Regions from separate parts of the Homo sapiens genome. Here region 1 is reported to be linked to region 2. Evidence: microRNA targets listed by miRTarBase, many of them from high-throughput screens and not tested one by one. Region 2 holds a microRNA gene; the other region holds the end of a gene's coding sequence.

What was found. The annotated mature microRNA hsa-miR-3200-5p reads AAUCUGAGAAGGCGCACAAGGU and lies in region 2 at 1,482-1,503, opposite strand. An mRNA with a match to its seed (bases 2 to 7 or 8) in the 3' UTR can be bound and repressed. Matches are read on the target gene's strand: a 7mer-m8 pairs with bases 2 to 8, a 7mer-A1 pairs with bases 2 to 7 and ends in A, and an 8mer does both.
Region 1: the mRNA of ZNF442 is a reported target of hsa-miR-3200-5p. Seed matches in the 3' UTR shown: 7mer-m8 at 953-959.

The regions. Positions count from the first base shown.
Region 1 is chr19:12,345,454-12,349,919 of GRCh38, reverse strand. It overlaps ZNF442 (zinc finger protein 442), which reads left to right. Exons shown (of 6, transcript NM_030824.3): 6 at 1-3,976. The coding sequence ends at 219. It also overlaps a transcript of ZNF563 not described here. Among named protein-coding and RNA genes, the nearest start is that of ZNF563, 14 kb to the right of the region's middle.
Region 2 is chr22:30,729,072-30,733,071 of GRCh38, reverse strand. MIR3200 (microRNA 3200) reads right to left here and starts at 1,515; the gene lies at 1,431-1,515. The region is part of intron 1 of OSBP2 (oxysterol binding protein 2); the gene reads right to left.

The DNA of each region.
Region 1 (4,466 bases), not on the chromosome of region 2:
CTCACTTGCCTTCTGCGACATGAAAGAATTCACACTGGAAAGAAATCTTATGAATGTCAACAATGTGGTAAAGCCTTCACTCGTTCTCGTTTCCTTCGAGGACATGAAAAAACTCACACTGGAGAGAAGATGCATGAATGTAAGGAATGTGGGAAGGCACTGAGTTCTCTCAGTTCCTTGCATAGACATAAAAGGACTCACTGGAGAGATACTCTATAAATGTGGAAAAGCATTCATTAATTTTATTTCATTTCAGAAACGTGAAAGAAATCACATAGGAGATAAGCCTCATGAATGCAAACACATGGTAAAGCCTTAAGATGTTTCTTTTGAATATGGTTATCCCCTAACCATATGCAGGGGATTGGTTCCAGACCCCCTAAGCATACCTAAATCCACAGATGCTGTGTTCCTTTTATAAAAGGACATTTGCATGTAACCTATCCACATCCTCCTGCATCCCATAAATCATGCCTAGATTACTTAATTTTTCACCAACCCAAAGCTTTTGTAAAAGTAAAAATAAAAAGTAGGTTACTAAAATACCTCATGTGTTGTAAAAGCTATGTAAACAGTCATTTTATTGTATTTTTTTTAGAGAATCGTGATATGAAAATAATCCTGTGCTGTTGAGAACAGACCCAACCATCACAGGCCTGCCTACATAGTACATGTCACCTAGAATGTTACAGTTTCTTTTTTTCTTTTTTTTTTTTTTAAGACAGAGTTTCACTCTTATTGCCCAGGCTGGAGGGCAATGGCACAATCTCAGCTCACTGCATCCTCTGCCTCCCGGGTTCAAGCAATTCTCCTGTCTTAGCCTCCTGAGTAGCTGGGATTACAGATGCATGCCACCACACCCAGCTAATTTTTTTTTTTTTTTTTTTTTTTTTGTATTTTTAGTAGAGACGGGGTTTCATCATATTGGTCAGGCTGGTCTCGAACTCCTGACCTCAGATGATCTGCCTGCCTTGGTCTCCCAAAGTGCTGGGATTACAGGCATGAGCCTGTAATCTACAGTTTCTTTTTTTTCAACAATCATAGATTGCTTTTATTTAATGACCTGGAATCGTGTGTTAACACTTATGAAAATCCTGATCCTTCTTGCTTGATAACCCAAGGATGATGATGATGATCATGATCATGATGATGCTGATTACAGTATGGTGCCTAATATGATTCACTGAGGTGACTAGATGGGTGGCACTGTAGATAAACAGTGAGACATCAGGCTCACTTGAATCTTGACAGGATGTCAGGATGATCATCTGTGTTGGATGAACCAGGTTCTGATTGCAGATGCTGAGTTTGGAAGAGACTAAATAATACTAATGTCAGAATCTGTTCAGCATGAGGGCTGAAGATGTGTACACACTGAAGGATCTGTCTTCATATTTGCAGATATTTAGTTAGAAACATTGTTGTAGGAAGCTGGTTCTTTTTCTTTAAATATCCTTGCAGTGTTTGTTGGCATGTTATCCCTTGGGTGACACAGAGGTTTTGTTCCATTGAAGGATCTTACTTGAGGATGGCAATCTTTATTTTATTTTTATTTTTATTTATTTATTTATCATTTGAGACTGAGTTTCGTTCTTATTGCCCAGTCTGGAGTGCAGTGGCGCGATCTCGACTCACTGCAACCTCCACCTCCCAGATTCAAGCGATTCTCCTGCCTCAGCCTCCAGAGTAGCTGGGATTACAGGCACTCGCCACCATGCCTGGCTAATTTTTATTTTTAGTAGAGATGGGGTTTCACCATGTTGGTCAGGCTGGTCTCGAACTCCTGACCTCAGGTGATCCACCTGCCTCGGCCTCCCAAAGTGCTGAGATTACAGGCATGAGCCACCGTGCCCTGCGAGGATTGTAATCTTTAATACTTTTCACCTTGCAGAGGCTGTAGATGCCCCAAAAACTGCTGCACATGTTTCAAGTGTCACATCTTTGATATTACCTCTTCTAAGTCTTCTGCATCATCATTATCATCATTATCTGCAGAGAATTTCAGTATATCTTCGAGTTCCTTGTTAGTATTTATGCTCTCTTATTTGTGTTGGGATAGAAAGATTAAGGAAAGGAGAGATGAGAAGGTGGCTCAACAGTTGAGACAGTTTTATTGGGAGTAAACCTGAGAAGGGCTTCCAGCGGCAGGGTCAGGTGCAAACTTCTCTTACAGCCTGAGGCTTTTTTAAAGGGCCCAGTGGAGAAGTGTGCTTTGAAACAAAATTCTGTTAGGGAGGGGTTGGGGAAGTCCTGGCTGTTCTGTTACAGTTAGGGCCGTTATTCTCTGTTGAAGTTATGGGCGGGGCTGACATTTTCAGTTTTGGCCAGGTGGCCAAATAGAAACTTAAAGCTTAGGATGGTGGAGTGTTATAAAGATGGCGGTGCTCTTGTCCTGTCAATGTGTTCCTCAATAAAGTCTTCAAGCATGTCATAGATTGTTTTCCCCACCAACCTCCCTTGCAGCATTTGAGATATTCCTGATACTTCATCAATAGTGGAGAAGCTCCTGAAATCATTGACTTCCTCACTCCATAATGGTTTCCAACACCCAATGAAGTAGTAGGAGGAAAACATGGGTTTCTTCTCCTGGAAGCCTCCAGAAGAAGGTATTTCAATATGGGGAGAGTGGTCAGCTGTGTCACAGGTCACTGAGAATTTGAATAAGACAAGGAAAAAGGGTTGACTGTAGATTTTGGCAAGTATTTGGTCACTGGGGGCCTTGATAAGAGCTGTTTCATTGAAGTATTCATGAGAATAACTTGTAGTGAAATATATCTCAAATAGACCTCCACGATGTTGCCTAGAGGGCAGTGTTACCCTTTGAACTACCAACATTAACCACTGGAACTGCTCATCTGGAAGCCTCTTACAGTGCTGGTACAAACTAGAATACACAAAGGAAGGGATCATTTTATACGTGTTACTGTGCTACTTGCTCTATCTACTTAGTGTTCCATACATGTAATTACCTATTCCATCCTATCCCAAAGTACTGAAAATCTCCATTCTACTTTCTCTGTCTGTGAATTTGACTATTCATAGAGAGAGAGATATGTGGAAGTATGCATGTGTCCTTCCATGTCTGGCTTATTTCACTTAGAACGTTTTCAAGGTTTATCCATGTGGTAGCATGTATCAGGAACTCATTGTTTTTGTGTCTGAATAAATTTCCACTGTATGGTTAAAGCATACTTTGTTTATCCATTTTTATGTTGATAAACATGGGTTGTTTCCACAGTAATAATTTGACTGCTATCAATAAGGCTGCTGTGGATGTGGTATGTCTATGTCTGTGTGAGTCCCTGCTTTCAATTCTTTTGGATATATGTATCCCTAGGAGTGTAATTGCTGGTTCACAGAATAATTGGTGTAAACCTTTTTCAGGAACAGGTATATTGCTTTACAAAGTGGCTACAATGTTTTACATTCTCTCCAGCAATGCATAAGGGTTTCTATTTTCCACATTGTCACATATACTGGTTGTCGTATTTTTTTCATAATAGCCAATTAATGGTTCTGTACTGCTTTTTCATTGTGGTTTTGATTTGCATTTCCCTAATGACCAATAATAATGCACATTGGTTTTTGTTTTTGTTGGTTGTTTATATATTTTTTGAACCAGTTTGTTTTAAAATCCTTTGCTCATTAAAATTGAGTCATTTGTGTTTTGTTGTTGAGTTATAGGAATTCTTATTTAAAATTTTTAGTTTTTAATATTTAGAAAATTTCTTTCTTTTTTCAGCTCCCAAGTGCTTGGAAGAGAGTTGTAGGAATTCTTTATACACTGTGGGTATTAAGCCCTTATTTGATATGTGATATGCAGATGTGTTCTCCCTTTCTGTAGGTTTTCTTTTCATCTTGAGATTGTCCTTTGGTGCGCAAAAGTTTTTAATTTCGATGTAGTCCAGTTTATCTTTTATTGGTTGTCTGTGCCTTAAATGTCGTATCCAATAAATCACTGCCAAATTTAACAAAATTTTCCCCTATGTTTTCTGCTAAGTAATTTTTTTTTCTCCCTCTGTCACCCAGGCTGGAGTGCAGAGGCATGATCTTGACTTACTGCAACCTCCACCTCAGGTTCAAGTGATTCTCATGCCTCAGCCTCCCAAGTAGTCAAGTAGCTGGGATTATAGGCACCCACCACCACGCCTGTCTAAATTTTGTATTTTTAGTAGGGACAGAGTTTAACCATGTTGGCCAGGCTGGTCTCCAATTCCTGACCTCAAGTGATCTGCTCGGCCTCCCAAAGTGCTGGGATTACAGCCATGAGCCACTGTACCCAGGCTCTTCTAAGTATTTTATAGTTTTAGCTTTTAAGTATAGGTCTTTGATTAAATATAAGTTACTATTTATACATGATGTAATGTGATGGTTCACTTTTATTATTTGCATGTAGATATCCAGTTTTCCCAACACCATTTTTTGAAAGATTGTCCTTCTACCAAAGAACGGTCTTGGCACTGTTG
Region 2 (4,000 bases):
CCTTCATGAAACGGAAGTGCTTTTTGGTAATGAGGTTGCCTTCCCTGCCTGTAGTGCCTCCAGCAGCACCATGGTCCAAAGTTACTGAATGCCTCGTGTGCTGGCCTGGACTTCCATTCGATACAGCCTTATACAAAGTGGCCCATTTCAGCCTAGCAGCTGTGCCAGTGACTCCTGGCCATAAATTCACTGGAATCACAGGAACCCAGCTGCACTAGGGGGCAGCGAGCCTGACAAAACAATGGAATGGCCTACTGGCTTAGCGGGGACACCGAGGGAGAAATACCCCTCAGGTTTGAGCCTCTGTCCTCCAGGATGCCTTGAGCTGACAACTGATATCTGGTGCCATGTCCCCCACAGCTACAGCAGACAGGTCCAGGAGTGGCCCTGCTCACCATCACGCATGGTTGCCCTTTGCAAGGTGTGTGCTTCCCATCCTCACACACTTGGGATCAGCTGGGTTAGAGGATCTAGTCCTGGGGTAAGGGAGGAATGTGAAACAAAGATTCCACTGATCTGGACACTGCCACAACCACTTGGCCACCTACGGCTCCTCATGCCAGTGACCAACAAAGAGGGGAGTGACTCTACTGCCAGGGGAGTGACTCTACTGCCAGGGGAGTGACTCTACCGCCAGGGGTCACTGATCCTAATTGCCATGAGGAATTAGGTGAGTGGCCCATTTGGAAATGGGAGGAGAATGTCTGGAATAAAACCCAGAGGACTCCTTGGGATATCTCTTATTTTTATTTATTTATTTATTTTTTGAGACAGAGTTTCACTCTTGTTGCCCAGGCTGGAGTGCAATGGCGCTATCTCGGCTTTCTGCAACCTCCGCCTCCCAGGTTCAAGTGATTCTCCTGTCTCAGCCTCCCGAGTAGCTGGGACTATAGGCACCCGTCACCACGCCCAGCTAATTTTTGTATTTTTAGTAGAGATGGGGTTTCACCATGTTAGTGAGGCTGGTCTTGAACCCCTGACCTCAGGTGATCTTTCCACCTTGGCCTCCCAAAGTGCTGGGATTACAGGCATGAGCCACTGTGCCTAGCACCGGTATCTCTTAACATTTCCATGATTGGTAACGGCTGATAATGAGCAAGGCCAACAACACATGCAGACCACTCAGCGCAAACATCACAGACCAGCCAGAGTGCTGGCGGAGAGTGGAGAGGGTCTAGGGTGGGTAGTGCAGGAGGGAAATGATGAGTAACAATGAGCACACCAGGACCGGCCACAGCAGCAGCAGATGACCTTGTTTCACAACCTTCTTGCTTTATTCTTCCTGGTAACCCCAGTGGGCCAGCACCAGGAAATGGCTTCTGTCACTGATGGGATTTGTACCTTCCTGCTCAGGGAAGGAATGAGGATGTTTTTGTTCTCCAAGGAAAACGGAGATTCCCACATTGAAGTAGGAGAGCTGATATCATGGGAGGGCACGAGCAGACCTGAGTAGCGCAAGGTGTGGACTGTATTGGACACAAACCTTGTGCGCCTTCTCAGATTCCCTCGACCACCTCCTTCTTTGTCTCTCTCGATGATGCCTCATCCAGGTCACGCCGTACCTCCACTTCTGGGCTTGTATGAAATGCCACCGTGGAAAATAGGATATGAAAAGAACAGGTCAGATGAATCTCCCCCCACTCTTCCCTCCACGGATGGCTCTGAGGTGTATTTTCTTCTTGTGTAAGTTCTGGAAAAGTCCATGTGCCAGGCAAGCATGCTTGCTGAGCGACCCACCGTGTCTCTGTAGCTCGCTGTGAAGTCTCATCCAGCAAGGGAATGAGCTGGGTGGTCACTTTGATCTCTCCTCTGCCACTTGCCATTGCTCCTTCACTGCCCTGGGATTGCACCTCCCAAAGTGTCAGCTCTTTATTTTTCATTTATTTATTTATTTATTTGAGATGGAGTCTCACTCTGCCGCCCAGGCTGGAGTGCAGTGGCGCGATCTCGGCTCACTGCAACCTCCACCTCCTGGGTTCAAGCGATTCTCCTCCCTCAGCCTCCCGAGTAGCTGGGACTATAGGCGCCCGCCACCACGCCTGGCTAATTTTTTGCATCTTTAGTAAAGACAGGGTTTCACAGTGTTAGTCAGGATGGTCTCGATCTCCTGACCTCGTGATCCACCTGCCTCGGCCACCCAAAGTGCTGGGATTACAGGCGTGAGGCACCGCGCCCGGCCAGCATTAGCTCTTTAATCCCTGCCTTGGGCTATGTTTTCCAGAAGCCCTTCCCCAAAAATGTCCATGGGAAAAAAAAAAAAAATTATATATATATATATATATATATATATATATATAGAGAGAGAGAGAGAGAGAGAGAGAGAGAGAGAGAGAGAGAGAGAGAGAGAGAGAGAGACAGGGCAGCGAATCTGAATCCAGATGCACAGAAAGACCAAAAGCTACCACTCTGGAGCAAAGTACTTAGTCTTATATGGAACTTCCATTCAATGCAAGCTCAAGGTGACCCTGATTCACTGTGAAATTCCCATCCAACCTTCTGCATTCTAATTCAGCAAGCACTTCCTGTGGGCTACTATATAAAGGAACTGTGCTAGAAACTGGGGAGGGAGTAGATACAAAAATAAATACGACACATCTTTCTGGCCTCAATGGTCTAGCTTGGGAAGGACACAGGCCTGTAAATGACAAGCCACTGTTTGTTAACAATAAGTGGGGGGAAATAAATTCAAAATAAGGGAGGTGCTCACTCCATGAAAATTCACTAGCTACATCCTCGTAATTGACCAGTTTTTCTGCATGTATGTTATACTTTTATACTTTATAAAAATTGGCTTTAAAAGCAAACTCCAGGCTGGGTGCGGTGGCTCGCGCCTGTAATCCCAGGACTTCGGGAGGCCGAGGTCGTCAAATCACTTGAAGTCAGGAGTTTGAGACTAGCCTGGGAAACATGGTGAAATCCCGTCTCTACTAAAAATACAAAAATTAGTCAGGCATGGTGGCATGCGCCTGTAGTCCCAGCTACTTGGAAGGCTGAGACACGAGAATCGCTTGAACCTGGGAGGCAGAGGTTGCAGTGAGCCGAGCGAGATTGTGCCACTGCACTCCAGCCTGGGTGACAGAGGGAGACTCCATCTCAAAAAAAAACCCCAAAAAACAAAAAAACCCAGAAATTTATTATCTCACACTTCTGGAGGCTAGAAACCCATAATCAACGTGTTGAAGTCCACAAGAGCTGAAGTCCACGAGAGCCTGGCTAATTTTTGTATTTTTAGTAGAGACAGGGTTTCACTATGTGTGCCAGGCTGGTCTCAAACTCCTGACCTTGTGATCCACCTGCCTCGGCCTCTCAAAGTACTGGGATTACAGGCATTAGCCACCATGACCAGCTGATTTCCTACCTTTTTAAGGCTATCTCCCTGTTGTGTATACATATATACACACACATATATACACACACATATATATATATATTTTGAGATAGAATCTCTCTCTGTCACCCAGGCTGGAGTGCAATGGCACAATCTTGGCTCACAGCAATCTCTGCCTCCTGGGTTCAAACGATTCTCCTGCCTCAGCCTCCCAAGTAACTGGGATTATAGGCACCCACCAATATGCCCAGCTAATGTTTGTATTTTTAGTAGAGACGGGGTTTCATTACGATGGCCAGGCTGGTCAGAAGCTCCTGACCCCAGGTGATCCTCCCACCTTGGCCTCCCAAAGTGCTGGGTTTACAGGCGTGAGCCACCGTGCCCAGCCAATAATTTTAGATCCATCCATCCATCGATGGACATTTAGGTGGGTACTGTGAATAATGCTGCAATGAACATGGCAGTGCTAGTATCTTTGAGATCCTAATTTCAGTTCTTTTGGATAAATGTCCAAAAGTAGGATTCCTGGATCATATGGTAGTTCTATTTTTAATTTTTTGGGGAACCTTTATACTAGGAAATGAACCAATTTAAAATGGGTAAAAAACTTGAGTAGGCACTTCACAAAGGAAGATACCCAAATGGCTGATAAACATATGAAAAAGCACTCAA